Homo sapiens: one gene and its partners. The protein of the gene in region 1 purifies or fractionates together with the protein of each later gene. This does not show direct contact. Each region holds a gene or a part of one and is shown in the gene's direction. Other genes may lie near its edges.

Region 1 (4,296 bases):
GATGAAGATCACCTACTTGTATCATTAGAAATAGAATTATGTTCTGTGAAGGAAATGAGGTACAGTGAGAAAAAATAATCCAGTTTAGGATGGCAGCTACCTAAAGGAGGTCATCGAGGAGGCCTTTCTGCAGGAGGGACTTTAATAGAAAACTGAGAGAAGATAGAATCCTGTGGAACAACTGAAGAGATAAAGAATTCTAGGCAGAAGGAACCTGTTTAAAAAGTCATGAGGCAGGAAAAAGTTTGGCATGTTTCAGGAATTGAAAGGAGGTTGGCGTGGTTAGACTCCTGAGTAACGGGGTGGCAGGGGTCAGATGGTGCGAGGCTTTTTATGCGAGTATTCTGAGTGCTCCATGAATACATTGATGGGCTTAAAGGAGAGGACTGATAAAATACAGCTTGTTTTAATACAGGTTGAGTATCGCAAATTCGAAAGTCTCCAATGAACATGTCCTTTGAACTTCATGTCCATGATTTTGGAGCATTTGGAATTTTCAGGTTAGGGTCACTCAGCCTGTATTACTTTTGATGGGGCCAAGAGTGGAAACTGAGGGACCACTTAGGTAATTCACCTCATGGAGGCAAGAGATGGTGGTGGTTTGGAAAGTTAGGATAGTGGTAGTGAAAATGCAATGGATTTGAGCTCTCTTCTAGACAAAGAATTAACAGGATTTCCTGTTAGCTTCGCTGTGAGGAGTCAACTGAAGTAAAGAATCAGAGGAGGATTGTTAAGTTTCCAGTGTGAACAGCTGGGCGTGGGGATTCCTGGGATGGCAAAGCCTGGAGAAAATCAGGTGGTGGGGGGCATGTTAAGCTTGAACTTTGTTGCGTTTGAGGTGCTAGTGTGGCATCCAATAATGGTGCCATTAAATGGTACCATTACTACTAAACATTTTTTCCCCCTAAAGCTCTAAACTTGTCCAGCCCACAGCTCACCATCTTTAGATCTTTTCTCAAATGTTACCATCTCAGCAAGGCCTTCCTTGACCAGCCAAACTTATGTTGAAAACCCCACACTGACCATCTCCCTTCCCTGCTTAATTTTTCTCCATAGTTAATTTTCACCATCTGACATGTTCTTTTTTTTCCCTAATACCCAGTGTGATAGCACATCTGACATGTTCTTTATTTTACTTTGTTATTAACTGAACTGCTTTCTCGCTATAAGATCGTCAGGGATTTTTGCGTATGGATCACTGCCATATCCCCAGCACCTAAAATAGGGTGTGGTCTATAGTAAATGCTCAGTAAATATTTGTTTATTGAATATATGAAACGACTTGAAGGATTCTGTAGTGTTTCCACGATTAAATTTTCTTACTAGTATTTGTTCAGGCTTTTGGCTTAAAACAGTTCAGTTCTCTTTTTTAAGTGAATGTAGATTTTGTATATACACACACATATATATGTGGATTTGCATTGTTTAGGAATAAAAACCTAAAATCTACCATTCATATTTTAATTTTCTTAATTTTCAGGTTACAACTGATGGAAAACCAAAAATCGTTGATATCATTGATACAACAGGAAGTGGCGATGTGAATACTGCTACAGAAGTAGAGCCAAAGGATGGTGAGATTGTTGGCCTTTCAGGAAGAGTGCTTAAGGTGAGACCTTTTGTCTTCTTTTTGAATTTTTTTTTTTTTACTCTTGCCTCAAAGCATCTAATGTTTTTACCTTACATTTGGTGGTGGTATTAGTTATCCATTGCCACATATCAGATTACCTCAGAACATCCTGGTTTAAAATGACAAATATTTATTACCTCGGAGTTTCTGTGAGTCAGGAATCTGGGTGTGGCTTAACGGGGTTCCAGTCGCCCTGGAGGTTGCAAATGGTTAGCCATGGCTGTGACTTCAGCTGAAGGCTCAGCTTGGGAGAAGAAGGGGAAGTTTGTTTCCAAGCCTACTGGTGGGTCACTGGCAGGCCTTGGCTCCTTGCCATTGGGCCTCTCCGCAGTGCTGCAGTACCTGGCAGCACCTTCCCTGGGGGAGTGAGCCGAGAGAGTCCCCACGATGAAAGCCACAGGCTTTTTATAAAAGTGACCTTCTAAGGGACCACCTATCACTTGACTATATTGAGCTCATTGGAAGTGAGTTAATAAATCTAGCACACACTTAAGGGGAAGGGATTTCACAAGAAATGAATCATTGGAGCTGTCTTAGAAGAAGCCATTATTTTGTTGTTTGATGAGGTAATTAGAATTGGGCGGTATTTTTCAGTGAGCTTGCCAAATTTTATGTTTTGAATACAAAGATAGAGAAAGTAACCACATCATAGCTTTGCCTTCATGTTTTACTGTCCCTTCATAGTATTCCCAGTTAACTTGACCATGAAGAAATACTTAGGCTATAGTAGCTGTTAACTTAAATGGCCAGCTTTGTCTTTTTTTTTTTTTTAAACTTCTTTTTTTCTTTTTTTTTTCGAGACATAGAGTCTTGCTCCGTTGCTCAGGCTAGAGTGCAGTGGTGCAATCTTGGCTCACTGCAACCTCCGCCTCCCGGGTTCTAGCAATTCTCCTGCCTCAGCCTCCCAATTAGCTGGGATTACAGGTGCCCGCCACCACGTCCAGCTAATTTTTGTATGATTAGTAGAGACAGGGTTTCACCATTTTGGCTAGGCTGGTCTCGAACTCTTGACCTTGTGATCCGCCTGTCTCAGCCTCCCAAAGTGCTGGGATTATAGGCGTGAGCCAGGGCACTCGGCCTACCAGCTTTGTCTTATTCTATGTCCTTGGTAGAAAGGCCTGGGTAAGCTAAACGTAAAAAATAATTATAAAGCAAGCACAGAGGAGCTCATGAGCTAAGGAGCATGAAGGATGGATGGCAAGAATTTGTGATCCTGTACTCTTAAGCAGCATTAGTTTGGAACATAAAATTATGGTTATTTAGTTAGCTTTTCCCACCTTTTGCCATCTATCTGAATTGTTCTTAGGTCTTGTCTTTTAAGTAAGCTTGTTGTGGCAGCATATTGGCTTTCTGTGCCGTGTAATAAAGCACCACAGACTTAGCCGCCTAAAACCTTGTGTATTCCTGTATTTATTATATCACTGATTCCATGGGGTAGGAGTCCAGGCATGGCTTTTTGTGGGTCTCTGCTCAGGGTCTCACAAGACTGCAGTCAAGATTAAAGGCTCAGCTGAGGCTCAGGCTTCTTTTCCAAGTTTACATGATTGTTGGAAAAATTCATTTCATTGCAGCTGTAAAACTCATGATAGCTTGCTTCTTCAAGGCCAGTAAGAGAATCTCTGACCTTGGTGATGACCCCAGTCTTTCTTTTAAAGAACTCACCTGATTAGTTCAGGCCCGCTGAGAATCATGTCACTTTTGATTTGCTCAGAGTCCTTAATTGCGTCTGCAAAATCCCTACACCTTCTTTACGTACCATAACGCAATCATGGGAGTGACATCTCATTATATTCACGGGTCCTGCCTTCACTTAGGGGAGGGACGTGGGTCTTCTTAGAAATCTGCCTGTCATGGGCAGATAGCAGCCATTAATAATCCAGGTTCTACTTCCTTTTCTGTGTGTTAGGAACTGATTATCTGTGTCCCCACCCCCTGCCAAAATTCATACATTGAAGCCCTATCCCTCTTTGTGTTGGTATTTGAAAGTTGGGCCTTTGGGAGGTATTTAGGGTTAGATGAGGTTATGAGTATGTGTCCCCTCAGGATAGGATTAGTACCCTTATAAGAAGAGACATCAGAGAGCTCTCTCTAGAGCAAGCTCTTTCTAGGGCATATGAGGACACAGCAAGAAGGTGGCCTCTGTAAGCCAGGAAGAGGGCTTTCACCTATGCTCAACCATGCTGGCACCCTGATGCTGAGCTTCCAGCCCCTAGAACTATGAAAAAATAAGTTTCAATTGTCAGAGTCATCCAGTTTACGGTGCGGGTTGAGAATCCCTTATCTGAAACGCTGGGGACCAGAAGTGTTTTAGGTTTCAGATTTTGGAATATTTGCATTGAATATACCAGTTGAGCCTCCCTAATCCAAAATCCGAAATGCTCCAAAATCCAGAACTTTCTGAGTGCCAACATGACACTCAAAGGAAATGGTCAATGGAGCATTTCAGATTTTCGGGTTAGAAATGCTCAGCCTTCTGAATTACTCTAGAGTTTGGCCTGTCTTCCCCCAAGTCAACCTTGTTATTAGAATATGTTTCAAAGGGAAACTTGGGATTCCTGTGAGCTATGGTACTCTGAGAAGCTAGAGAGAATTCCTAGTAAGTCTTGCAGGCTTAGAGCCATATAAAGTATTACTCGAGCATTTATTTATTTATATTAATTTTGAGA
Region 2 (3,218 bases), on another chromosome or scaffold:
TGAACCACTTTGCCCAGCCTTGTTTTCGATTTTTTGCTATCGTGAATGAAGTTGCTATGAACATTCGTGTCTACATTGTTTTGCAAACATATGTTTTCATTTTTCTTGGACAAATATCTGGGAGTGGAATTACTGGGTCAAAAGATAGGTATGTGTTTAACTTGGTAAGAAACGGCCAAATTGTTTTCCAAAATGGTGGTACCATATACCTTCCCTACCAGCAATGTATGTGATCACAGCTGTTCCACATCCCTGCTGACATTTGGTGTTGTCAATCTTTAATTTTAGCCATAATGTGAATATATGGTGGTATCTCATTGTCATTTTTATTTGCATTTCCCTAATCCCTAATGATGTTGAGCACTTTTTTATGTGCTTACTTTTGCCCATCATTTTTCATTAGATTGCCTTTTATTATTGAGTTGTATTGGTTCTTTATGTATTCTTGATACAAGTTGTCAGGTGTATATTTTATGAATATTTTATATAACTGTGTCTTGCCTGTTCATTTTCTTAACAGTGTCTTTTGATGAGCAAAAGTTTTATTTTTGATTGAGTGTAACTTACCAAATTTTTGATTATTACTTTTTGTATCCCTAAGAAATCTTTACTTACCTCTGTATTGAGAATATATTTTCCTTTTTTTTTTTCTGAAAGTGTTATACAGTTTGCTTTTATATTTAGGTCTGTGGTGCATCTCAAATTCATTTTTATGTGCAAAGTTGGGGTCAGGATTCACTTTTTTCCCTATGGATATTCAGTTGTTCTGCCACCATTTATTGAAAAGACTATTTTTTCCTTTTGCTCTTTAATTGTTTTGGTACCTTTGTTGAAAGCCATTTGTCCAAGTGTGGGGCCTATTTCTGAACTCTGTTCTCTTCCTTTGATCTACTTGTCTTTATCCTAATCCTGCACAGTCTTGATTACAGTAGTTTCGTGCTGAGTCTGGAAGTCAGCTAGTGTTAAGTAGTGCAGCTTTGTTTCATTTCAAGATTCTTTTGGCTAAGTCCTGGCATTTCCACATAAATTTTAAAAATTGCCTCATCCATTTCTATTAAAAAACGAGTATATAGAAACACAGTGGTTTTCATATATTAATTTTATACCCGGAGACATTGCTATATTCACTAAGTTTTTAATGCATAGTTCCTGAACACCCTGGACTTTCTTCCCTTCATGTTTTCCTATGGCTCTGTAGATGTGAATGTCCTTGTCTTTTATGTCTGCCTCCTACAGAGGTCCAGTGGGAATGCCATGGCATTGTGAAGTTGTCTGACACTGTCCCAGCTGGAATCATATAGTCCCCCTAAGAGTCTCTGTTAGTGCACCTTCCACACTCAGTCTTGAATGAGCCATTTTTTGAAGGCAAGAGCTTTACTTTATCTTCCTCTCCAGTCCCACAATATTGAGCACAGCATCTTGTTCACAGTCTGGAACGTATCTTTTCGACATTTATATCAGATAGTAGGGAATTATGTAGCTGTTGGGTGAAGTGAAGGTGGGGGACATTCTTATAGGAAACCTCAGTCAATTGAAATATACCAATTGGAATATACTCAATCAATGGGAATCAGTTGGAATACCCTGAGGTATATCCTAAAAAGGGAATATGGACCTTTTATCAAAAACGTAGCCCTATGTTTTCCCTATTCAAAAATATGTTTACTAGTGGATGATTTACGACACTCTAAATGACTTGAGTTTTTGCTGTCAATTTTGAATTTTTGTATGTCTAAATACGTTTCTTCTTACTTCATTTTTGTTTTCTAGGTGGCTGACTGTTCTTGGGATGAAACAATAAAGATCTATGACCCTGCTTGTCTTACTATTCCTGCTTGAGATACACTACTTTGGTCAGAAACAGAGGATGTTGGCTGAAGAACTGCCTAACAGCAAATAAATTAACTATGGAAAACATAGACATTATGCTTTTATATGCTATTCAGATTTCAAATCTTTCCAATTTACCCTGGAATCAGTTTTGAGGGAGCTGATAAAGACTTTAGCTGACTCGTTAAGCCTGATACATAAGCCATATTTAAAATTCTAAGAAATAATTAATGTTATGATATATCTTGTAGTATCTATTAAAATGTCTCTGGGTCATAAAATGGATTAAAATATGGGAGATCAGTAGGTTATACTTATATAGATAGTGATATATTTCATTTTTAATTTGTCATTTTTGATGTAAAATATAATCACTGCTGTGATAAATAAACTATCTATTGATCATTTATCATTTTATAACTTCCCCCAAAAGACTGCTCTTTCTAATACATTGTATATGTGAATATAGTACTATATATAATATAGATATATCTGTGGTTCAGTAACAGGACACTAGAATATATTTAATTTATTCTTTTATTTAGTAGCTGTTTATTGAGCATCTACTCAGTGCTTGACACATAGACTCAATGAGATTCTGTCAAGGACTGGTGCCATGTTTTTAAGAACATGGAATGCTGTGAGCTAAGAGCTTACTTTTTTTTTTTTCTTAGAATTTATTCACACATTTTTAGATATTGTACCCATGACTCTATAATTTTGTCTTCCCACTTCTCTAATATCAAAATTTTTTTAAACTGTCAATTAAACAAAAAGTTTTAGGTCCTACTAAGGCTTCTAGCTTTTGCCCTTGAAACCAGGCCTAAGTACAGCTATACGTGCTCCTTGCCACCTCCCTAAGTTTTCTTGAAAAAGCTCTAGGTGCAGATGAACTGAAAAAAACAAAAAAAGTTGGTTAAAGAGGAAAAATCAGCAAAACAAACTACTTTGCATAACACTTATATTTTCTACATAATATTAAGATATGCTATAAATAGCAAAGATTATAATTCTTAAGTTCTTTTTAAAGAACAAAATACGCTCATAATAATCAGAGCAAAAATAAACTAAAATATATGTATATTGTCTTCTTTATAGATTTCCTTGTTTACTTGTTGCAGAAAAAATTTAAGACAGCTTAAGATATAAAAACAAAACAACAGCATAAATTAAGAAGTGGAACCAAAGACAGAAAGTGGAGGCAAGAGTGGGGCTTGAGTATACATACCTCAAAGTCCTGTAAAGTTACTACTGACTGGGCCAAAGATTTGCCGCTAAGGTTTCTAGCTTCATAAATAGGAAATCTGAACAGTTACACAGTTCAGTGCCTATGGCCTAGAGGGCAGACTCTGTCCTTGTGCCAGGCTTGGCCCTACCACCCTGCCTGG
Region 3 (4,296 bases), on another chromosome or scaffold:
ATTATGTATGTGCTTTGATATGTAAACTATTTCTTTAAAATATATTCATATACTTAAACCAAATAACACCAGCAGATGCATACAAGAGCTACCTCTTGAGTCATTTTATCTCGAACCTCACTTCCCAATGCAGAATAAATTGCTCCCTCATCCATGTTCCCATAGTGTTGTATAAAGACCTGACCTCACAGTCTTATAGTTCCTAGTTCCTAGTCTCACTCATTAGACTGTGAATTCCTCAAAGGCAGAAGCTATATTTTAAACATCATTGAATCCCTAGCACTTACTACAGTTCTGGCATAGTTGTTTTTAATTGACTTTTCCTCTCTACAGCTGAGGAGGATGAGGACAAGGAAGATGATTTCCGAGCTCCCCTTTACAAAACAGTGGAGATAAAGGGCATCCAGGTGCGCATGAAATGGTGTGCCACCTGCCGCTTTTACCGTCCCCCTCGATGTTCCCACTGCAGTGTCTGTGACAACTGTGTGGAGGTAAGCACCCTGGGTGGGGTAAGACTTCATGCTTAACCTTCATTGTCTTCATCCTAACCATATAATAGATTCTTAGCTTTGGATGTGGTATAGTCCTGTCTAACTACGTTGGCCACATGGTCCAGCTCTGTCAAATGGTGTTAATAATGACATGGCATGAGAGGCAGAGCATAAATATTATTGCAGGAGGGAAGCTTTAACTCAATATGGGCATAGGCTTTCTTTTTTATTTATTTTTACTTTTTGTAGTGATGAGGTCTCACTGTGTTGCTTGGACTATCTCAAATTCCTGGCTTCAAGTGATCCTCATGCCCTGGCCTCCCAGAGTGCTGAGTGCTGGGATTACAGGCATGAGCCATTGCACTAGCAGGGTGTAGGCTTTCTTGACACCAAGATTTATAGTTCTAGCCTTCTATCTATTGGCTCAGTTTTGGTTATTTATCCTGGCTTTGCATTTTCTCTTCCAGAAAATCATGCTGTTGTGTTTCAATTTGTTGTAGTTGTTTTCCTGCCTGTCCTTCTGCATCCCTTGTCCTTTTTCCATTCCATTTTCACTTAGCTATAAGCAGTTACCTGCCAAATCTTCCTTCTAATCCTCTTTTCTTATGAATCTTGATGTTTCTGCAAAACCTCTGACATTCGTCACTTTTAGAGTTCCTTGGTCACATAGGATAAACATTGAGAGCCGGCCTTGGTCTTTTTTATATATATATATATTTATTTATTTATCGAGACGGAGTCTCGCTCTGTTGCCCAGGCTGGAGTGCAATGGCGCAATCTCGGCTCACTGCATCCTCCGCCTCCCGGGTTCAACCGATTCTCCTGCCTCAGCCTCCTGAGTAGCTGGGATTACAGGCACGCGCTACCACGCCCGGCTAATTTTTGTATTTTTAGTAGAGATGGGGTTTCACCATGTTGGTCAGGCTGGTCTTGAACTCCTGACCTCGTGATCTACCCGCCTCGGCCTCTCAAAGTGCTGGGATTACAGGCGTGAGCCACCGCGCCCGGCCAATTTTTTTTTTTTTTTTTTTTTAAGAGATGGGGTCTTGCTATGTTGCCCAGTACAGTGGCTATTCACAGGCAGTCATCATAGTTCACTACAGCCTTGAACTCCTGGGCTCAAGCCCCAGCCCCCCAAGTAGCTGGGACTACAAGTGTGCACCACTACGCCTGGTTGGCCTTGGCCTTTGACCAACCTCTGGAAGGTCTCCCTTGCAGATTTATAGAGCAAAATAAACTGGATTTAATTTTGAACTAATTGGTGACCATGATCAAAACTTAGCTGCCATTTGTTTCTCTTCTTGACAGAAGTAATTTAATGCTATGGTCCAGGGATGCCTCTCATCTGTCTCTCTTTGTCCCTAGGAATTTGATCATCACTGCCCCTGGGTGAATAACTGTATTGGTCGCCGGAACTACCGTTATTTTTTCCTTTTCCTCCTTTCCCTGACAGCCCACATTATGGGTGTGTTTGGCTTTGGCCTCCTTTATGTCCTCTACCACATAGAGGAACTCTCAGGGGTCCGCACGGCTGTCACGTATCCTTCAAGGCCTTTTAGATTGTGGGATTGGAAGGGGGAGGAATGAGGGCTAAAGGGAAAATGGCTGCAGTAGGGGCCGGGGAAAGTGAGGTCATGTTGCTCTGTTCTCCTTGATTGTTTGGCATCAGAATGGCAGTAATGTGTGTGGCTGGCTTATTCTTCATCCCTGTAGCTGGCCTCACGGGATTTCACGTGGTTCTGGTGGCCAGGGGACGCACAACCAATGAACAGGTATGGAGAAAAGTGACGAGAGACCCCTGAAGAGCAGGTCATGTCTCTTTAGCCTTCTGATTAGTGTGCAGTGTAGTGCTTCCACAAAGAGATGCTTAATGAATACTTTTCATGATTATGTAGAGATTAATGGTAGGGAGTGAGGTAGTCCTAGTTCCTCATGTAAGTGTAGAGGCCATGTAAGAATAGAGGCCATTTCTCACATATACACCATGGAATACTATGCAGCCATAAAAAAGGATGAGTTCTTGTCCTTTGTAGGGACATGGATGAATCTGGAAACCATCATTCTGCGCAAACTGTCGCAAGGACAGAAAACCAAACACCGCATGTTCTCACTCATAGGTGGGAACTGAACAATGAGAACACTTGGTCACGGGGTGGGGAACATAACACCCTGGGGCCTGTTGTGGGGCAGGGGGAGCGGGGAGGGATAGCATTAGGAGATATACCTAATGTAAGTGACGAGTTAATGGGTGCAGCACACCAACATGGCACATGTATACATATGTAACAAACCTGCATGTTGTGCATATGTACCCTAGAGCTGTAAGTATAATAATAATAAAGATACTCTCAAAGAGATACTAAGACAATAGAGATAAAGGCTGAATTTTGCCCTAAAATATCTTTTTTTATTTTTTATTTTTTTGAGACAGAGTCTTGATCTGTCGCCCAGGCTGGCATCCAGTGGCGTGATCTTGGCTCACTGCAACCTCTGCCTCCTGGGTTCAAGCGATTCTCCTGCCTCAGGCTCCCAAGTAGCTGAGATTACAGATGTGCATCACCACGCCCAACTAATTTTTGTATTTTTAGTAGAGACAGGGTTTCACCATGTTGGCCAGGCTGGTCTCGAACTCCCGACCTCAGGTGATCCACCCACCTCAGCCTCCCAAAGTGCTAAAATATCTTTTATTTATTTATTTATTTATTGTAATTTTAGTAGACACGGGGTTTCACCATGTTAGCCAGGATGGTCTCGATCTCTTGACCTCGTGATCCGCCCACCTCGGCCTCCCAAAGTGCAGGGATTACAGGCATGAGCCACTGCGCCCAGCCTAAAAATATATTTTATAACAAAATAATATCTATCTCCAAAGAAAGTCTTGGATGGTTTGGCATCATCACCTGAAATATCAATTGAGAGACCCAAACCAAACTGAAACTAGACAATATAGCATAAAGAATAAGATGATAGTTTTTTAAACAATACTCACCATAGAACTTGGTATCCAAATAATAGTATTCTTTCTTTAGTTTGTCAAAAATCATATTAATAGATTTTTAAATTTAAAGTGTAGCAAGACATATGTATATGTACATATATGTTCATATACATATAAATATTTAAGATCTTCCTAAAAAAAAAAAAGAATAGAGGCCACTTCTTAGTTAACAGACATTTACTATATGCCCACTGGATACTGGAGAATTTAGGCTCTGAGTTTATAGAAACAATGAAAGACTTAGGCTAGCCCTCAAGAAGCTTATAGTGCTGCTTACAGGAAAGCAATGATTTTTGTGCATATAATAGTAGCTAACCTTAATTGCTTTTTTTTTTTCTTTTTTGAGACAGAGTATCGCTTTGTCACCCAGGCTGGAGCCCACTGGCTGGAGCCCACTGGCTGGGGCGCAGTGGCACGATCTCGGCTCACTGCAACCTTTGCCTCCTGGCTTCAAGCAATTCTCCTGCCTCAGCTACCCAAGTAGCTGGGATTGCAGGTGCCTGACACCATGCCCGGCTAGTTTTTATATATTTTTATAGTAGAGATGGGGTTTTGCCATGTTGGCCAGTTTGGTCTCAAATTCCGGACCTCAGGTGATCCACCTGCCTCAGCCTCCCAAAGTGCTGGGATTACAGGTGTGAGCTGCCATGCCCAGCCCTTAATTGCTTATTCTTTATCTTAGTTTTCAATATTTAGAAAGCTATCCCATTTTACATGAGGAAACTGAGGTTTTGGGTCAGCAACCATGAGGTAGACCTAGGATTTGAACTAAGGACCCTGACTGTAGATTCCCTGCTCTTAACCATA
Region 4 (4,296 bases), on another chromosome or scaffold:
GTGTTTCTAGTGTATAAAATGATGAAACCCAAGTCGAAGCTAAAAGTGGTGGGGATTGCTTAGACCCTACACTGCTTGCGGCATACTTCTCATAGGAGTCGGGTGGCTGGATACTGGTTGTGGGTTGGGGAGGTAACTGGCCCTCATGGGCTTTGGCCTCACTAACCACTACACTAATCAGCCAAGCTAATGAGATCGTCCATTGTAAGTCCACATTAAATAGTAATGAAAGCTACTGCTGATCTCGGCCACCAACATCTGTCTTTAAAAAGATGCTGTATCTATAAGTTCTCTTAAGTAAATACAACTGCTCTTCTGGCTGAAAAACCTTATTGTAGGCTAGAAATGAAATTCATGGGACAGGGCTGGCAGTAACAGATGTTGGATTTGTCATTTTCAATGCTCTTTTTTTCCCCTTTACAGTTTTCATATCCTAGGGAAGGCAGGCCCTTCCATGCAGCAAGACTTCTATACTGTGGAGGACCTTGCTACCCAGCTTCTCAGCTCAGCCTTTGTCAACTTGAACAATATTCCTGACTACCGACTCAGACCCATGCTTCATATCCTTTCAAAAGTCTCTACATAACCCAAAAGGTCAGAAAATTAGAGAGAGAAACAAAACAGGTCACAGCAACCAGAGGGAAGAGGCAGAACTGGAAGGAAGAGATGAGATTATGTATCTAAGTGTATCATGTCATTAAAAACACTGGCAGATTGCAGGGAAAACATGAAGGCAGTCCAGATGGCCATAAACTTTTCCTTAGGGGTAAATTTTTACCTTCCCCCTTCTCGGAATTATTACAGATAAAACTTTTTTTTTTTTTTGAGACAGTCTTGCTCACTCTGTTGCACAGGCTGGAGTGCAGTGGTATGATCTCGGCTCACAGCTTCTGCCTCTCAGGTTCAAGCTATTCTTGTGCCTCAGCCTCCTAACTAGCTGTGATTACAGGTGTGCACCATCACGCCCAGCTGATTTTTATTCCTATTTTTTGAGACAGAGTTTTGCTCTATTGCCCAGGCTGGAGTGCAGTGGCATGATCTTGTCTTACTGCAACTTCCACCTCCTGGGTTCAAGTGATTCATGTGCCTCAGCCTCCCAAGTAGCTGGGATTACAGGCGCATGCTACTACGCCCAGCTAATTTTTTTGTATTTTTAGTAGAGACAGGTTTTCGCCATGTTGGCCAGGCTGGTCTCAAACTCCTGACCTCAAGTAATCCGCCTGCCTCAGCCTCCCAAAGTGCTGGGGTTACAGGTGTGAGCCACCATGCCCAGCTGTGAAAGATAAAACTTTTATCCCTTTTCTGTATTTTTAGAAGCACTTTTTTTTTTTTTTTTTTGAGACAGGGTCTCAGTGTTACCCAGGCAGGAATGCAGTGGTGCCATCAAAGCTCAGTGCAGGCTCAAGTGATCCTCCCACCTCAGCTTCCTGAAGAGCCTGGACTGGACCACAGATGCGCACCACCACACCCAGCTAGTTTTTATTATTATTTGTAGAGATGGGTCTGTATTATGTTCCCCAGGGTGGTCTCAAACTCCTGGCTCAAGTAATTCTCCTGCCTCAGCCTCCAAAGTGCTAGAATTACAGGCCTGAGCCACCACACCCAGCCAGAAGCAGCAGTTTTAACACTTCATTCTCATTCAGACCCTTATTAATAGTTGAATCTCTTTCTTTCTTTTCTTTTTTTTTTTTTTTGAGACGGAGTCTTGCTCTGTTGCCCAGGCTGGAGTGCAGTGGCGTGATCTCGGCTCACTGCAAGCTTCGCCTCCCAGGTTCACACCATTCTCTTGCCTTAGCTTCTCGAGTAGCTGGGACTACAGGCGCTCGCCCCCATGCCCGACTAATTTTTTTTTTTTTTTTTTTTTTTTTTAGTAGAGACGGGGTTTCACCATGTTAGCCAGGATGGTCTCGCTCTCTTGACCCCGTGATCCACTCGCCTTGGCCTCCCAAAGTGCTGGGATTACAGGTGTGAGCCACCGCAGCCAGCAAATCTTTCTTACCTGAAATTATAAGGAGAATGGTGAAGGAGAGTTTGTTACAAGGATGTCCTCCTTCCTATTTTTTTATTCCTACTTTTTGGGCCAGTGACCATAATGTGCAGCCTGACGGAAATGCAGCTAAACTAAGAGTATAATGGAATTCAATATCAGTGCCATTTAGGATTTTAGGAAAAGAACTTTAAGATTTTTTCACTGTTAACACAGGATATTTTTGACATCTGGCAAATCCTTTAGGGATTGATTCTGCCCAGGGGTGCAACCCACCACCTGGCAGGTGAGAGATGTGTGCCTATGCACTAAAATTTCTTAACTTGTTGCAGCACGTGTCTTTGTAAAGCCTCTGGTGCTCTTCTGTCCCCCAGAGCACTATGAAGCCCTGGTATCCCCCATCCTCGGACCTCTTTTCACCTACCTCCATATGGTAAGAGATAAGTCAGGAACAGGAAGCAAAGAGTACTATTAAGGCCTCTGGCCATTTCTGAGCTTTGCAAGTCAGGAGCTCCTAGAAGTGTTGTCTACTAGCCCTGCCAGACTGGCTGGGCAGAGCTTCTACCCCAGCTGACTATCCTTGCTGTAGGATCGAGCAGCCCCCAAAGAACTAAACTGATTTAATTGCCACAAGACAGCTTCAGTTGCAGATTCTGCTCCTAACCTCCTGTTAACTGAGGAGAGGTAAAAAGAGGAATGCTTGCTCACAGACCCTTGCCAGGAATGCTGGGTCTGTTATCCTTACTCTAGAATTAAGCAGGGGGACCAGCTGGGTGGAGAACAGGTATGTCTAGAGACCCAGGAATTCTAAAAATGTTGTTAATTCTTTCCAAGCAAAGAGGTGTTTGAGATACCACCTTCATCAGGGATGTGGGATAGGTTACAGAAACCATAGATGTTTTTTTTAACCTTGTGGTGTGGAGTCTACAGAAGTTGTCATTGATGCCTAGAATCATCCTTGGCTAATTTTAATCATGAAGTGGACTTGACTTTAGATATTATGTGTTCCAATCCTTTCCCCAATTCTAGCATTTATTTCCTTTGTGTTTTCCCAGAGGCTTTCTCAGAAATGGCAAGTTATCAACCAAAGGAGCCTGCTGTGGTAAGGGATACCTACCCACTCTTCTTGGTGGATGAACTGGCAGCCAGGTTTGGGGTGGGAAAAGGAAGCGGGCAGGGATTCTGCTGTCCCAGGGTAGAAGAGCAGTAGGTTGTAGTCATTCTCAGCCTAGGTGATACATGGCTTGTCTGGACAGGCTGTTACCAGCAGGCAGACTCTGAGATCCAGCCTTCATAGGGGCTACTGTTACCTTACTCACTTATTTTAATTCTGTAATGTCTATCCAACTGGACAGAGTCACTAGTAATAATGTCCTTCAGTGGATCACTGCTGTCCATTCCCAACTTTTGCATAAAACGAAGACCCAAAGGAGAAGAAAGTGGTCAGAGAGAGTCTGATTAGGGTCGCTGCTTTCCTTGTCCTTCCTTTTCTGCACTCCTGTGGAACTTGGCCCCCTGGTTTTCTGCAGTGGAGAAGATGAGGCTGCAGATGAAAACCCAGAGTCTCAAGAGATGCTGGAGGAGCAACTGGTGAGGATGTTAACCCGAGAAGTCATGGACCTAATCAGTAAGTGGCATGTCGAAACTGGGGCTATAGAGGATTTTCCTGGAAGAAGAGCTGGTCGCTCAGCCAACTCCATGAAGGCCTGACTAATGCAAAGGATTCATGTTTGCGGCGGGCATGGTGGATTGCGAGGTCAAAAGATCAAGACCATCCTGGCCAACATGGTGAAACCCTGTCTCTACTAATAATACAAAAATTAGCTGGGCGTAGTGGCGCGCAGGCCTGTAGTCCCAGCTACTCAGGAGGCTGAGGTAGGAGAATCGCTTGAACCCGGGAGGCGGAGGCTGCAGTGAGCCGAAATCACGCCACTGCACTCCAGCCTGGCAAAAGAGTGAAACTCCGTCTCAAAAAAAAAGTTCATGTTTGTAGCAACACTGACAGATCCAAAAGAAATAACTAGATAGAAGCAAGGCAGTCCTTAAGTCAACCTAAGGATACTTTATGAATTGCAAGCTGAATATGGGGAAACAAAAATAGCAGAAGGAATTTGGATTCATTAGGAATAACTTCCTAGTTTTGTCAAAATAGGGAAATGTTTTAAATTCTTGGACATGGAGGCTGTTAATTTTCTTTTTATTTTTACTGTGTCATTTTGTTTGTTTGAGATTCAAAGTAGACCAGGGATGTATCAAGCATCCTTTCCTAGTCACTCACTCTCAGAGAATTCTGTAATTTTCTCTCAGCT
Region 5 (4,915 bases), on another chromosome or scaffold:
GTCCCAGCTACTTGGGAGGCTGAGGTGGGAGGATCACCTGAGCCCAGGAGGTCAAGGCTGCAGTGAGCTAAGATTGTGCCACTGCACCCCAGCCTGGGCAACAGAGTGAGACCCTGTCTCAACAAAATAAATAAATATATTTTGAATTAAATTAAAATGAAAAAACAGCCTATCAAAAAGTGTGGGATGTAGTGAAAGTAGTGTTTAGAGGGAAAGTTATAGCATTGAATGCATATATTAGGAGAAGAAAGATCTAACTCAGAGAGGGATGAACAGGTGAGGCATAGGGGATTTTAAGGTAGTGAAACTCTTGCAGGGCAGGGGAGCCCCAAAACTGGGACACCGTCCGGGAAGGCTCTTGGCTTCGTCCAGGAAGGAATTCAAGGGTGAGCTAGAGGAGGAAGAAAAAGGTTTATTGAGGCAGCAGGGTTACAGTTCTGTGACTGTCCCTGCAGAGCAGGGCCACCCCATAGGCAGTGCCTGGAGAGCAGCAGCTCAGGGCACTTCTATAGTCACATTCATACCCACTTTTAAATACGTGCAAATTAAGGGCAGGTTATTCAGAAATTTCTAGAAGAAGGGTGGTAACTGGGTCATTGCCAGGGAATGAGTAAACTGTTCATGGTGCTGGTGCTCATGCCAGCCAGTCTTCAATCTGGCCCTGAGTCAAGCCCCACCTCCTATCTCAAAACTATTCTGCATGGTGCTGTAATGGTGGATACATGACATGTTATGTTTGGCAAAATCCATAGAACTGTAGGACACAAGAGTGAACCTTAATGTAAACCTTAATGTAAATGGACTTTTGTTAATTATGATGTATTAATATCAATTCATCAATTGTAACAAATGTATCACAGTACTGTTAATAATAGAGGAACTTATTGGCAGGAGAGAGAGCTTATGGAACTCTCTGCACATTCAGCTCAATATTTCTGTAAGCCTAAAACTGCTGTGAGAAATAAAATCCAACCTGGGCAACATAGCAAGACCTTGTCTCTACAAAAAATAAAAAATGAGCTGGGTGCAGTAACGCATGCCTGTAGTCCCAGGTATTCAGGAGGCTGGGGCAGGAGGATCCCTTGAACCCAGGAAGTTGAGGTTGCACGAGTCATGATCATGCCCCTGCACTCCAGCCTGGATAACAAAGCAAGATCCTGTCTCCAAAAAATAATAAAATAAAATAAAAATCTACTAATTGAAAGGGAAAAAAGCATAGTATAATACCATTCTTAACAAAAAGAAAAGAGACCTGTGTTTGTGTGTGTGTTAACATTTGAAAAAAATCTGGAAAGCTCTATATCAAAACGTTTATAGAGGCAATTTTGTAGTGTTAGAATCATAGATGATCTTTCCACTTCCTGGTTTTTCTGACTTTTTTTCTTTTTGCAGTGGGCATGTATTGCTGGAAAATACCACAGACAACTGTGAAAGGATTTCATCAACAACAAAAAAAAGATAAAGAAGGAAACACAAAATCTGTTAAATAAGATTTATGTTGGCTGGAGGTTAAAATGCATTTCCAGAGCAGAGTTCAGAGAAAGGCTGGGCTGCTTGTTGCTGGCTAAAGGACAAAGGGTAAGTTTCAGGAAGCAGAAGAGTGAGCAGATGAAATTCAGCACTGGGATCAGGGGAGTGTCTGATTTGCAAAAGGAAAGTGCAAAGACAGCTCCTCCCTTCTGAGGAAACGAAACCAACAGCAGTCCAAGCTCAGTCAGCAGAAGAGATAAAAGCAAACAGGTCTGGGAGGCAGTTCTGTTGCCACTCTCTCTCCTGTCAATGATGGATCTCAGAAATACCCCAGCCAAATCTCTGGACAAGTTCATTGAAGACTATCTCTTGCCAGACACGTGTTTCCGCATGCAAATCAACCATGCCATTGACATCATCTGTGGGTTCCTGAAGGAAAGGTGCTTCCGAGGTAGCTCCTACCCTGTGTGTGTGTCCAAGGTGGTAAAGGTGAGTCCAGGCCTGCCTGGCCAGGGGAGGGGTGGCTGAATGTGCAAGAGTTGAGATTGAGAATGAGAGAGAGAGAGAGAGAGAAGCAAAAACCTAGAACCCAGGGTGCAAATGTGAGTACAGAGAGCTGAGATCTTCTGGGATGGTGGTTTCTTATTTATCCACACAGCATGTTAAAATAGATTCTGGGGTGAAATCCTACATCCCTATTATTAACAAGTGACCCTCCCCCCTACTTCCCGCTGAAGTTTATGAACCACTGTCCTGGGCGATGCCCATTTCAGAAATAGGGAACTGAATCCCAGCTCTGGTAAACAGTTTGCTAATTCGTGGCCAGGCTAGGGGCTCACCATTTCTGCAGTGAAGAATCATATGTTTTGAAAGCAAATAGCACCTGCTGGCTGCAAGACCTTGAGCAAGTCACTTAACTACTCTGTGTTCCAATTTCCTCAGCCATAATCCCCAATACTGTTGCAGTCTTGCCAGTGCACCTTAATGTAGCAGCTTCTCACTGAATTAGTACCCAAGGTTCTTTGTCCTGCATCCAAGAAAATTAAGGAACATGGACACAAACGTGAGCTTGGAGCAAAAGTTCAGTAAGCAAAAGAAGAAAGCTGTCTCCACTGTGGAGAGGGAAGTCTGAGTGGATTGCCAGATTGCAGCTGAATGCAAAAAACTTTTATAAGAAACCACTCTCCTCCCTGTAACTGTTTGAGAAACTTTTTATCAGTAAAGCTGTGCAACTTCCCTTACCTTATGCAGCTGTGGGTATATCTCTAGGCAAGCATAAAGCGCTGCTTCTCTTGTATGTATAACTGTGGATTTGTTTTAGGTAAGTCCCACTCCCTGCGCCAGTTTCAGGCAGGCCGCTCCTCCAGGGCCCAGCCTTGACCATTTACCTAACTGATTTTTCCTCTACTTTCCCTCAATACCTCATAGGGCCGTGTAGATTAAGTAAAATAGTAAGTGTGAACCACCCAGCATAAGCTAGTCCTGGGCATCGTAAAGGACAATGGGAAAAGAACACAGATCCTGGAAGAAGGCCCCCAGGTTTGAATTGTATTTGCCACCTACTAGCTGGGTGATGGGGCTGATATATTATCTCACTGAGCATCCATTTTCCCATCTGTAAAATGGGAACTAATGATAATGGCATCCAAATCATAGCATCATTGTGAGCATTATAGGAGTTTAAGACATGCAATGCCTTCAGAACAGTGGCTAGTGCTCCATAATGTTAGTGATTGCTCCTGTCATTTTATTTAGGGAGGTTTGCCTCACTAAGCATCAATTATTATTTTTGTCGTCTTTTTCAGGGTGGCTCCTCAGGCAAGGGCACCACCCTCAGAGGCCGATCTGACGCTGACCTGGTTGTCTTCCTCAGTCCTCTCACCACTTTTCAGGATCAGTTAAATCGCCGGGGAGAGTTCATCCAGGAAATTAGGAGACAGCTGGAAGCCTGTCAAAGAGAGAGAGCATTTTCCGTGAAGTTTGAGGTCCAGGCTCCACGCTGGGGCAACCCCCGTGCGCTCAGCTTCGTACTGAGTTCGCTCCAGCTCGGGGAGGGGGTGGAGTTCGATGTGCTGCCTGCCTTTGATGCCCTGGGTGAGAGCTCCCAGCTTCTTTTTCTCCCTCTTCCCATTTCTGAGCAGAAATCTCCCACAGTTTGAGAGCTTTTTGCCCCAACAGGGCATCTCTCTAAAGCAGGGTGGGAGGAGATCTTAGGATCTGTCCCGGGGCAAGAATGAATACGGTCATGATCTATCACAGGAGAGACATTAAACAGCAAATTGGCATAATGTGGGGACAAAGACATTTCTTACAGAACATCTGCAAGGCTTACTGGTTCTGTTTAAGGCAAAATGTGTGAATTTTATCTTTCTAAAATCAGGCAGCAAAGATGTGGCTTAAAGTTCATGTTACTCTCATCTTTGTCCCAACATGAGATCTCATCAAACGTATGCAGCACGTTGGGAGATAGATATTTATAATTTGCAGGAACATTTGGACAGGAAGTGTAACCTCTCAGAGGCTCCCTTGCCACATCAGGAGAATTGGTAAAACCACACTACCTGTATCATATCATTATTTTAAGTGATAAATGATCATCTACATTCAGCTCTGATGAGTAATAGGTGTTCAAAAATAGGAACTTCCAGCCAAGTGTGGTGGCTCATGCTTGTAATTCCAACACTTTTGGAGGCTGAGGCAGGAGGGTCGCTTGAGCCCAGGAGTTCAAGACCAGCCTGGGCAGCAAAGTGAAACCTCATCTCTACTAAAAATTTTAAAACATTAGCCAAGTGTGGTGGTACATGCCTGTGGTCGCAGTTATTCAGGACGCTGAGACTGAACGATCACATGAGGCCAGCCAAGGATTCGAGGTGTCAGTGAGCCACGAATGTACCACTGCACTCCATCCTAGGCACAGAGCAAGAGCAAGACCCTGTCTCAATCAATCAGTCAATCAGTCAAAACTATGAATTTCCCAGCTGTATATGAAGGCACCTCAAAACACCACAGTGAACTCACAGAGGGACACGGAATAGTTTAGATTTTAATTTTTTGAGGGAAATGCGATGACATCTGTCACACACCGCACAAACGGCTACTATTAAACTGAACTTACTGATTAGTGGCTACTAATTAATAGTTGGTCATTAAGCAGTAATTAGTGATTAATTATCAAGTAATTAGGACTTAATTAAAGGAACTGTCACAGTTTCCTTTAGTCCTAGGGCAGCCATGAAAAAAAAAATGCTGACTCTCCAAAGACACCAGGGTATGAGAAAGTTTTGGATTCTCTCCTTTGTGCCATCTCCTGTGTTGGGGGCTGAAGTACAATGGTTGTAAAAGACAAGAGGGAGAAGGCTGGTCACAGTGGCTCACGCCTGTAATCTCAGCACTTTGGGAGGCCAAAGTGGGGGGATCACTTGAAGTCAGGAATTCAAGACCAGCC
Region 6 (4,120 bases), on another chromosome or scaffold:
TTATTTCTTCTTTCATCATTAATGTAGCCCTGTGCTTATATGTAAGATTATAGGCAGTTCCCTGAATATATGTTATTATTTCATGTCTCAGTACTTTTTGTACATGCAGGTCCCCTTTCTGAAATTCTCCTTCCCATCTCTAGCTGTTCTTTCTGTGGTCAGCTCAAGCCTTGTCTTATCTGATGTTCTTCAGCAGACTTAGGTACTTCTTTCTCAAATGCTTATTGAGCCTTGTGCATACCCATTATAGCAGCTACCACATCTGTTTGACCTTTCCCTGGCTGATAACCTTTTTGAGCATTGGGATTCTATTTTTTCATTTATATAAATCCAAGACTTACTATAGTAAGAACTTGGTGTTAGTAGACAATAGGTATTTATTCAGCAAATGGCCAAGCATATTCATTTTAATTAATTAATTAATTTTGGGACAGGGTCTTGCTCTGTTGCCCAGGCTGGAGTGCAGTGTTACAATCATGGCTCACTGCAGCCTATCTCCCAGGCCCAAGCCATCCTCCCAGCTTAGCCTTCCACGTAGCTAGGACTACAGGCTTGTGCCACCGTGCTTTGCTAATTTTTTGTATTTTTTGTAGAGATGGGGTCTGACTCTGTTGCCCAGGCTGGTCTTGAACTCCTGGGCTCAAGTGATCTTTCCACCTCAACCTTCCAAACTGCTGTGATTATAGGTGTGAGCCACCATGCCAGCTAAACATATTCATTTTAAAGACCCAAATACCTCACATTCCATTCAACCGCTCTCTCCCCGCCACCAGGACCCACCTTCATACTTTCTCCACTGATTCTGCCTATCATTAGTAGTTATACTTGGAAAGCAGAGGAATTTGTAGATGTGCCACAGATGAAAGATGTTAAGAATGTGTTATAGTGTTCTGATAAACCAGGTCTTTAGCAATATGTAATAGTGCCTACAGGTTGCACTGAATTAGAGCATTCTGTGTAAGGTCTGTTGCTTTGTTTTATGTAAAGTGAATAGGTGAGTAGTGACAAAGAACTAGGTTGTTCTTTCATTTTGGTTTTATTGGTGTTGACATTTACTATCAGTACCTGCCATTTTTTGAAATAAACATTATAATTTTTACATTACTTGGGTATGTTTTTAAGTCTTTTAAACCTCAATATCTCCTCACCTAGAAAAAATATTTTAGGAAACCGAAACTATGATGTTAAATAGTTTGCACAAGGTTTTGAGGCTAGTTGGAGCTAGGACAAAGAGCTTCTAGTTGAGAGATTTTTATAAACTGTGAATTCAGCCTTATTCCAGGGTTTTTTTGTTTTTTGTTTTCAAATTTTTTCTTTCAGCAAAGTAATAAAATGTTTAATTTTTATTAAAATATTAATGTACCTTTTTTTTTTTTTCCAGAGAGTAATGCCTTCTAGCTTTTTCCTGCTGTTGCGGTTTTTCTTGAGAATTGATGGGGTGCTTATCAGAATGAATGACACGAGACTTTACCATGAGGTATTTATTGTTGTTTAATGAATATACTAATTGATACTGGGCTTGTTTGTGTTGTTTAATTGTCAATCTGAGAATTTGAAATTAAACAATCTATATTATATGGCAGTCTTTCTAACTGTTAAGTCTGAGTGTTTCACATTCACTGTTGACTGCAGGCTATCATCAAAACATTACATTTCCTTTTACAAAGGTTCTGGTGACTCAAAATGTTTTCTAAAAGACACTCCCTAATTGGGGAGGGGTCTTTTGAGACAATTTTGTATGTACTTAATCCATGTTTAAGAAAACTGTCCTTTAACTCTTACCTTTGTTTACAGTATATGTTGTTTATGTAATGTCCTGATGTACATTAATATACAGGAAGTACATTAATATATTAATCAGGCCAAGGCCGGGCGCCGTAGCTCACGCCTGTAATCCCGGCACTTTGGGAGGCCGAGGTGGGTAGATCACCTGAGATCAGGAGTTCGAGACCAGCCTGGCCAACATGGTGAAACCCTGTCTCTACTAAAAATACAAAAAATTAGCCAGGCATGGTGGCACGGACTTGTAGTCCTAGCTGCTACTTGGGAGGCTGAGGTGGGAGGATTGCTTGAGCTGGTGAAGGTTGAGGCTGCAGTGACAGAGCAAGACCCTGTCTCAAAGAAAAAAAAAAAAAAGAAACATACCTAAGTTATACAGTTAGTAGGTGGCAGAATTGGAATTTGAACCTAGTAGGATAGGATTGGATTGATGCTTTCTAAACCCTTCACTTAGGGATTTTTTCTTGAAATAACATGGTTATAGTGATAGACCTTTTTTCTTTTAAAAGTGGTGGCAAAGTACTAAACATAAGCTATATTTTTGTTCCCCAGAAAGAGAAATCTAAATTTTATTTTTATTTATTTATTTGAGATGGATGGAGTCTTGCTCTGTTGCCCAGGCTGGAATGCAGTGGCGCGATCTTGGCTCACTGCAACCTCTGCTTCCTGAGTTCAAGCAATTCTCATGTCTCAGCCTCCCTAGTAGCTGGGATTACAGGCGCCCACCACCACACCTGGCAATTTTGTTGTTGTTGTTTTTAATGGAGTGATGGGGTTTCACCATGTTGGCCAGGCCGGTCTTGAACTCCTGACCTCAAGTGATCCAATTGCCTCGGCCTCCCAAAGTGCTGGGATTATAGGCGTGAGCCACACCGCTCCTGGCCTAAATGTTAAAAATACTGTTTTAATTAAACAATATTGAATTTTAGGAATTTATCCTAAAAAGATTCTTTTATATAATAATCTACTAATATTAATTGGGCAATTACTCAGAGTTATACGTACATGAATATTCACAGTAGTATTGTTTATAATAGCAGAAAGGAAGGAAAGTAGGAACTTAATGCCCATTAAATGGCCATTAATTAAATTGTTTATATCCATATGGTATAAAATATATAATTATTAAAATTGGTTGCAGAGATTGATATTTAAGTAATTTTGAAAGATATTCATTTCAGTGTTGAACTTTCAAAAGCAAGTATGAATCTACTTACATAAGATTCTCTGTAGAGATTTCTAAGTATTAAAGATAGTGTTACCTATAAGCTGTGATCACTGATGATTTATACTTTTATATTATTTGATTTTTTTCCTACAGTGACTATTAATCTGTTTTTATTAATACAAGAGAGTGAAACCTTAAAGGCATATAATTTTGTGGCTTTTCTTTTATTGAAAAGTGTTTCAAGAAGTAAATTATAATAAGTTGCTGTTCTAAAACCTAACCAAAAATCTTAAATGGGAAAAATTGAAGTACAAAAAAGGTGATTTTAAGTAAGCTATTTGGTAAGAGCTTTATGGAATGGGAAAGAATAAAAATTTTAAAGCATGTTTTGCAACATAAAAGTAGCACAATTACGTAGGTAAATGATAAGATAGCTTAAGGGAAAGATGTTTCAAACTTGAAGTAATTTTAAAATCTCTTGCATATTTCATTTATACAAATTCATTATATACATTATTCATTTATATACATATTCTTTCAAAGTAAAATCTTTGCTATGTTTCTCTTACATGGTAATTATAAAATCTGTTTACATATGTGTATCATCATTATAATGTATAGAAATTGGAAATAATAATCCAATTTGAGTTAAATAGGAGTTATCTCAGTGTAGAACAAGATGTTCTCTTTAGACTGCATGCTGTTTTGACAACCTATCCTAAAATGTAGGCAGTCTGTTTTTAATACAAAGGATTTTGTAAATCAGTATAATTAAATTTATTGCAACTGTTTATTTTTAAATACAGGCTGACAAGACCTACATGTTACGAGAATATACGTCACGAGAAAGCAAAATTTCTAGTTTGATGGCAAGTACTTAAATTTCAGTTTTTAGAAGTTAATTTTAATGTTTCATTTTAATTTAAGTAGCATATACCCCTGACCCCAACCACCCAAGTTTACATCCCTAAACCCATTCATTCACCTAATGGGGCTCTATAGGATAAATTCTATGGGAGCATAACTTTTCTGACCTTACCTCAAATACAAGAACATTTAGAGCTGCTAGGTACTTAAGCCTCATCTAATCTAATTTTCACATTTTGTTCTAGAGAAATTGAAACCCAGAGGTGTGACTTACTCTGAGTCACATAGCTGGCTGGTGATGGATGT
Region 7 (4,296 bases), on another chromosome or scaffold:
GTCTGGGTGTGGCCTGGCATGAGGCTGGCCTGGCCTGAGCCCGTGCTGGGCCTCTGAAGCCAGCCTTGGAGCCTGGACTCTCTCCCATGGTCAGTGGGGACCAGGAGGGGCCGCAGGCCAAGGGGAACTCGGCCAGGTTTGCATCCAGCGGGTGGAGATGGGTGTGCCTGGGGACTCACCCTCCCGGTGCCCAGCCCAGCCTGGCGGGGAGAAGCCCCAAGGCCCACAAGTTGGCCATAGACACAAGTGCAGCCTCAATGTGGTAGCCCACTGAGGGGTCCGTGTGGTCCTTGCAGGGTGCTTTTGAATGCTTTGACTTCTTTGCCTCCACTGAGAAAGTGACAGACTTCACTTCCAAAGCCGTTTCTGGCATCTGGTGACAGACCAGCTGGAGGCGAGTGGCAGCTGCCTCCACGGGCAGGGCACTGGCTCTTCTGGGCCACAGGCCGCACCCGACCCACCTCAGCTCCACGCCCTGCCTGGCTCTGTGGCCACTTGCATGTAGGCTTTGCCCCCACCAAGGTGTCTCCAAAAACCCAGCCCCTGCCTGGCTTGCCAGATGTGAGGCCTGCCTGTGACTGTCCCAGCAGGAGGCAGGGCACTTGAATTCACACATGGGGCCTTGTGGCCAGCACTGTCCTGGGGCCCCATAGGCACTTGTGTTTGCTGCCCTTGACCGGGCCTCAGGCCTCCCAGGACCTTCTCGACTCCCTGTTGGTTTTTTTTTTTTTTTTTTTGAGAGACATTCCTGCTCTGTCTCCCTGGCTGGAGTGCAGTGGCGCCACCTCGGCTCATGCAACCTTCGCCTCCTGGGTTCAAGCGATTTTCCTGCCTCAGCCTCCCGCGTAGCTGGGATTACAGGCGCCCACCACTATGCCCATCTAATTTTTGTATTTTTAGTAGAGACGGGTTTTCGCCATTTTGGCCAGGCTGGTCTCAAACTCCTGACCTCAGGTGATCCTCAGCCTCCCGAGGTGCTGGGATTATAGGCGTGAGCCACTGCTTCTTGCCTCAACGCCCTGTTCTAACAGCAAAGTCTGGCCTTGTGTCCACCTTGACTTCCTGGGGCCCCTGGGCAAGGCCCGGCTTCAGGCAGACAGCCACGGCCAGGAGAGACAGGGCAGCGGCAGACCACGGATTTTGTGGGATCAGTGTTTTCTACACGTTACAGGCAGGCCTCTGGCTGGAGGATGCCTGGCAGCCCCAGGCAGGGTCCGGGTTTCGTGGGATCAGTGTTTTCCACACATTAGAGGCAGGCCTCCGGCTGGAGGACATCTGGCAGCCCCGGGCAGGGTCCTTGTCAGCAGGGCCCACGTTCTCAGCTCACTGTGGCCTTTGCACAGACACCTCACTCACTACGTGGTTTAGCAAAAGTTCACTGAGCCCCTGCTGTGCGCCAGATGCTGGTCTAGGTGCTGAGATGGAGCAGGACCCGAAGCAGACAGGAAAAAACAATCCCTGCCCAGAGCATGCACTAGGCAGAGCCGGGAGCAGACAGATGCCTGTGTGCTCTGTATCAGCTGCTGTTAGGTGCTCTAGGTAGAATGCAGGCAGGGCAGGGGCCGGGGAGGGCAGGGGCTGGCATTTTAGATGATGGGAGGCCAGCAGAAGCCTCACTGAGAAGCTGAGTTTTGAGCAAAGACCTGAAGGAGTGGAGGGAGGGAGCCACAGGGACCCTGAGAGCTGATGTTCCAGGCAGAGGGAGCCGCCAGCGGAGAGGCCCTGGGCGCAGGGGGGCGGGGGTGGGGGAGACACCCGTGTGTCTGGAAATGGAACGGGGGCAGAGGGGGCCTGCAGGACACGACTCAGACCACAGAGGGTGGGGACCGGGTGACTCGGGATGCACTGGATGCTCTGCCTGGTCCCCATCTGCATTTGCATTTGCCACCCGGCTCCTGGGACCCCCTTGCCCTCTACTTTGGGACCAGGCCTTTCTGACTCTCCCTGTCCCCCACTCCTTGTTGTTCATGGGAGCAGAGAGTGTGGTTTTGGGGCTAAGGAACACTGGCGCCCACATGGGAGGAAGTGCCAGGCCAGGCCCTGGCCCCAGCGCCCTGTCATTTGCAGCCCTCGGGGCTGATTATGGGGTGGGTCAATTTCTGCCCTTCCTCCCCCAAACCCCTCAGGGCAGGACTATTCCACCAGTGTGAGGAACAGGAGAAAAACAAGGGGGGCCTCTCCAGGGTCCCACCGAGCCCAGGGGGCAGCAGCCTGGCCATGGCGATCACTCCTCTGGCCCCTGCAGCTGTGTCCCCAGGGAGGGGAGGGGCTGCACTGCCCATGCCATTGTCACTCCATGGCATCTCTTCATTGCGTCTCTGTCTTGTCTCTGTGTGTGTCGTGCTGTCCTGTCCCTGCGTGTCGGATGCACGTCCTGTGTGCCCCACTCCTTGCTGGGCCCCCACCCACCATTGCCTGGGACCCCAGACCATCGTGCGGGGCAGCAAAGGTGCCAAAGATGGGGCCCTCACGCTGCTGCTGGACGAGTTTGAGAACATGTCGGTGACACGCTCCAACTCCCTGCGGAGAGACAGCCCGCCGCCGCCCGCCCGTGCCCGCCAGGAAAATGGGATGCCAGAGGAGCCGGCCACCACGGCCAGAGGGGGCCCAGGGAAGGCAGGCAGCCGAGGCCGGTTCGCCGGTCACAGCGAGGCGGGTGGCGGCAGTGGTGACAGGCGACGGGCGGGGCCAGAGAAGAGGCCCAAGTCTTCCAGGGAGGGCTCAGGGGGTCCCCAGGAGTCCTCCCGGGACAAACGCCCCCTCTCCGGGCCTGATGTCGGCACCCCCCAGCCTGCTGGTCTGGCCAGTGGGGCGAAACTGGCAGCTGGCCGGCCCTTTAACACCTACCCGAGGGCTGACACGGACCACCCATCCCGGGGTGCCCAGGTAACCCATCCCCCGCCCCAGGGCCCCCACTGTCCCCTGCCCGTTGCTCCTCTGTCCCCACCTTCCAGCCCCGCCCCACCACCGTGCATCTCATCCTGACCACCCATGTGTCTGTCCCATCGCTGGGTCTCTCTCCTGCTTAGGGAGCAGAGCTGCTCCCTGGCACCCATCACTGACAGCTACCTCTCTTCTGTTTCAGGGGGAGCCTCATGACGTGGCCCCTAACGGGCCATCAGCGGGGGGCCTGGCCATCCCCCAGTCCTCCTCCTCCTCCTCCCGGCCTCCCACCCGAGCCCGAGGTGCCCCCAGCCCTGGAGTGCTGGGACCCCACGCCTCAGAGCCCCAGCTGGCCCCTCCAGCCTGCACCCCCGCCGCCCCTGCTGTTCCTGGGCCCCCTGGCCCCCGCTCACCACAGCGGGAGCCACAGCGAGTATCCCATGAGCAGTTCCGGGCTGCCCTGCAGCTGGTGGTGGACCCAGGCGACCCCCGCTCCTACCTGGACAACTTCATCAAGATTGGCGAGGGCTCCACGGGCATCGTGTGCATCGCCACCGTGCGCAGCTCGGGCAAGCTGGTGGCCGTCAAGAAGATGGACCTGCGCAAGCAGCAGAGGCGCGAGCTGCTCTTCAACGAGGTGCGGGCGCTGCTGCCCTGCCGCCCTGCTGGTCCTCCCACCCCTCCCTCCCACCCTCCCTCCCCTCCTCCCTCCTCTCCCTGCACTCCTCCGTGCTGGGCCAGGCTCCCCTCCTCCCCTCACTCTTCTCCCTCCCCAGGCCGTCTCGTCCGCCCCAGCTGGGTCCCTGCCTCTGTCCTCACAGCACCCTCACCCACATCTCTGTCCCTGAGCCCCAGACCCAGGGTTCCTCGGGCCACTGACCCCCGACCCAGTGTCTTCCAGGCCCCTCGCACCCACTGAGGCCCGCCTGGGCTCCAGGGTACAGTGTCCTCCAGACCTGCCCCTCCTGGGTTCCCTGTGCCCCGCCCTGGCCTCCACTCCTGGGTGTCCCTCGGCACAGCCCACACAACCACCAAGAGTATGTTTCTGACGTTCAGGCCCACCCCCTCCCCGTCCCTCCTTAGAGACCCTGGCAGTGCCCCGTAGCACCCTGACGATAGGAAGCCCAGGTCCCTTTGCCGGGTGTGTGAGGCCCCTCTCGACCCCGTTGCCCATCACAGTGCCGGGCTGCACCATGGAGCTCCTCGCCTGGGTTCCTCATCCTCCCGCCGACACACGCCTCTTCTCTCATCCTTGCCCTTGTCCGGGTCTCAGCCCTGTGATTGAACGCTCTCTTCCCACCTGCCCCCCAGCACTAGCCCAGGACTGACCTGAGATGGGCGTGTGCCCAGGGGGGCGCGCCCCCAGAAGGGAGGCGTGGGCTTCAAGCTGGCTCTGAGGCCCACGTGGCTGTG

What was found.
Region 2: the proteins of TPP2 (region 1) and PEX7 purify together in Homo sapiens (co-immunoprecipitation; one large-scale study listed by IntAct). This does not show direct contact.
Region 3: the proteins of TPP2 (region 1) and ZDHHC5 purify together in Homo sapiens (co-immunoprecipitation; one large-scale study listed by IntAct). This does not show direct contact.
Region 4: the proteins of TPP2 (region 1) and XPO5 fractionate together in Homo sapiens (co-fractionation; one large-scale study listed by BioGRID). This does not show direct contact.
Region 5: the proteins of TPP2 (region 1) and OAS1 purify together in Homo sapiens (co-immunoprecipitation; one large-scale study listed by IntAct). This does not show direct contact.
Region 6: the proteins of TPP2 (region 1) and TIPRL fractionate together in Homo sapiens (co-fractionation; one large-scale study listed by BioGRID). This does not show direct contact.
Region 7: the proteins of TPP2 (region 1) and PAK4 purify together in Homo sapiens (co-immunoprecipitation; one large-scale study listed by IntAct). This does not show direct contact.

The regions. Positions count from the first base shown.
Region 1 is NC_000013.11:102,603,313-102,607,608, forward strand, and holds part of TPP2 (tripeptidyl-peptidase 2), read left to right. Parts: intron 1-1,480; coding exon 1,481-1,609; intron 1,610-4,296. UniProt on the Homo sapiens protein: Cytosolic tripeptidyl-peptidase that releases N-terminal tripeptides from polypeptides and is a component of the proteolytic cascade acting downstream of the 26S proteasome in the ubiquitin-proteasome pathway.
Region 2 is NC_000006.12:136,911,688-136,914,905, forward strand, and holds the end of PEX7 (peroxisomal biogenesis factor 7), read left to right. Parts: intron 1-1,770; coding exon 1,771-1,839; 3' UTR 1,840-2,247; downstream 2,248-3,218. UniProt on the Homo sapiens protein: Receptor required for the peroxisomal import of proteins containing a C-terminal PTS2-type peroxisomal targeting signal. Specifically binds to cargo proteins containing a PTS2 peroxisomal targeting signal in the cytosol.
Region 3 is NC_000011.10:57,688,175-57,692,470, forward strand, and holds part of ZDHHC5 (palmitoyltransferase ZDHHC5), read left to right. Parts: intron 1-333; coding exon 334-491; intron 492-1,856; coding exon 1,857-2,029; intron 2,030-2,160; coding exon 2,161-2,263; intron 2,264-4,296. UniProt on the Homo sapiens protein: Palmitoyltransferase that catalyzes the addition of palmitate onto various protein substrates such as CTNND2, CD36, GSDMD, NLRP3, NOD1, NOD2, STAT3 and S1PR1 thus plays a role in various biological processes including cell adhesion, inflammation, fatty acid uptake, bacterial sensing or cardiac functions.
Region 4 is NC_000006.12:43,526,952-43,531,247, reverse strand, and holds part of XPO5 (exportin-5), read left to right. Parts: intron 1-423; coding exon 424-560; intron 561-1,871; exon of another isoform or gene 1,872-1,892; coding exon of another isoform or gene 1,893-1,999; intron 2,000-2,322; coding exon 2,323-2,420; intron 2,421-3,042; coding exon 3,043-3,089; intron 3,090-3,516; coding exon 3,517-3,614; intron 3,615-4,296. UniProt on the Homo sapiens protein: Mediates the nuclear export of proteins bearing a double-stranded RNA binding domain (dsRBD) and double-stranded RNAs (cargos). XPO5 in the nucleus binds cooperatively to the RNA and to the GTPase Ran in its active GTP-bound form.
Region 5 is NC_000012.12:112,905,261-112,910,175, forward strand, and holds the start of OAS1 (2'-5'-oligoadenylate synthase 1), read left to right. Parts: upstream 1-1,701; 5' UTR 1,702-1,779; coding exon 1,780-1,959; intron 1,960-3,275; coding exon 3,276-3,564; intron 3,565-4,915.
Region 6 is NC_000001.11:168,195,166-168,199,285, forward strand, and holds part of TIPRL (TIP41-like protein), read left to right. Parts: intron 1-1,381; coding exon 1,382-1,477; intron 1,478-3,753; coding exon 3,754-3,816; intron 3,817-4,120. UniProt on the Homo sapiens protein: May be a allosteric regulator of serine/threonine-protein phosphatase 2A (PP2A). Isoform 1 inhibits catalytic activity of the PP2A(D) core complex in vitro. The PP2A(C):TIPRL complex does not show phosphatase activity.
Region 7 is NC_000019.10:39,170,491-39,174,786, forward strand, and holds part of PAK4 (serine/threonine-protein kinase PAK 4), read left to right. Parts: intron 1-2,427; coding exon 2,428-2,886; intron 2,887-3,085; coding exon 3,086-3,520; intron 3,521-4,296. UniProt on the Homo sapiens protein: Serine/threonine-protein kinase that plays a role in a variety of different signaling pathways including cytoskeleton regulation, cell adhesion turnover, cell migration, growth, proliferation or cell survival.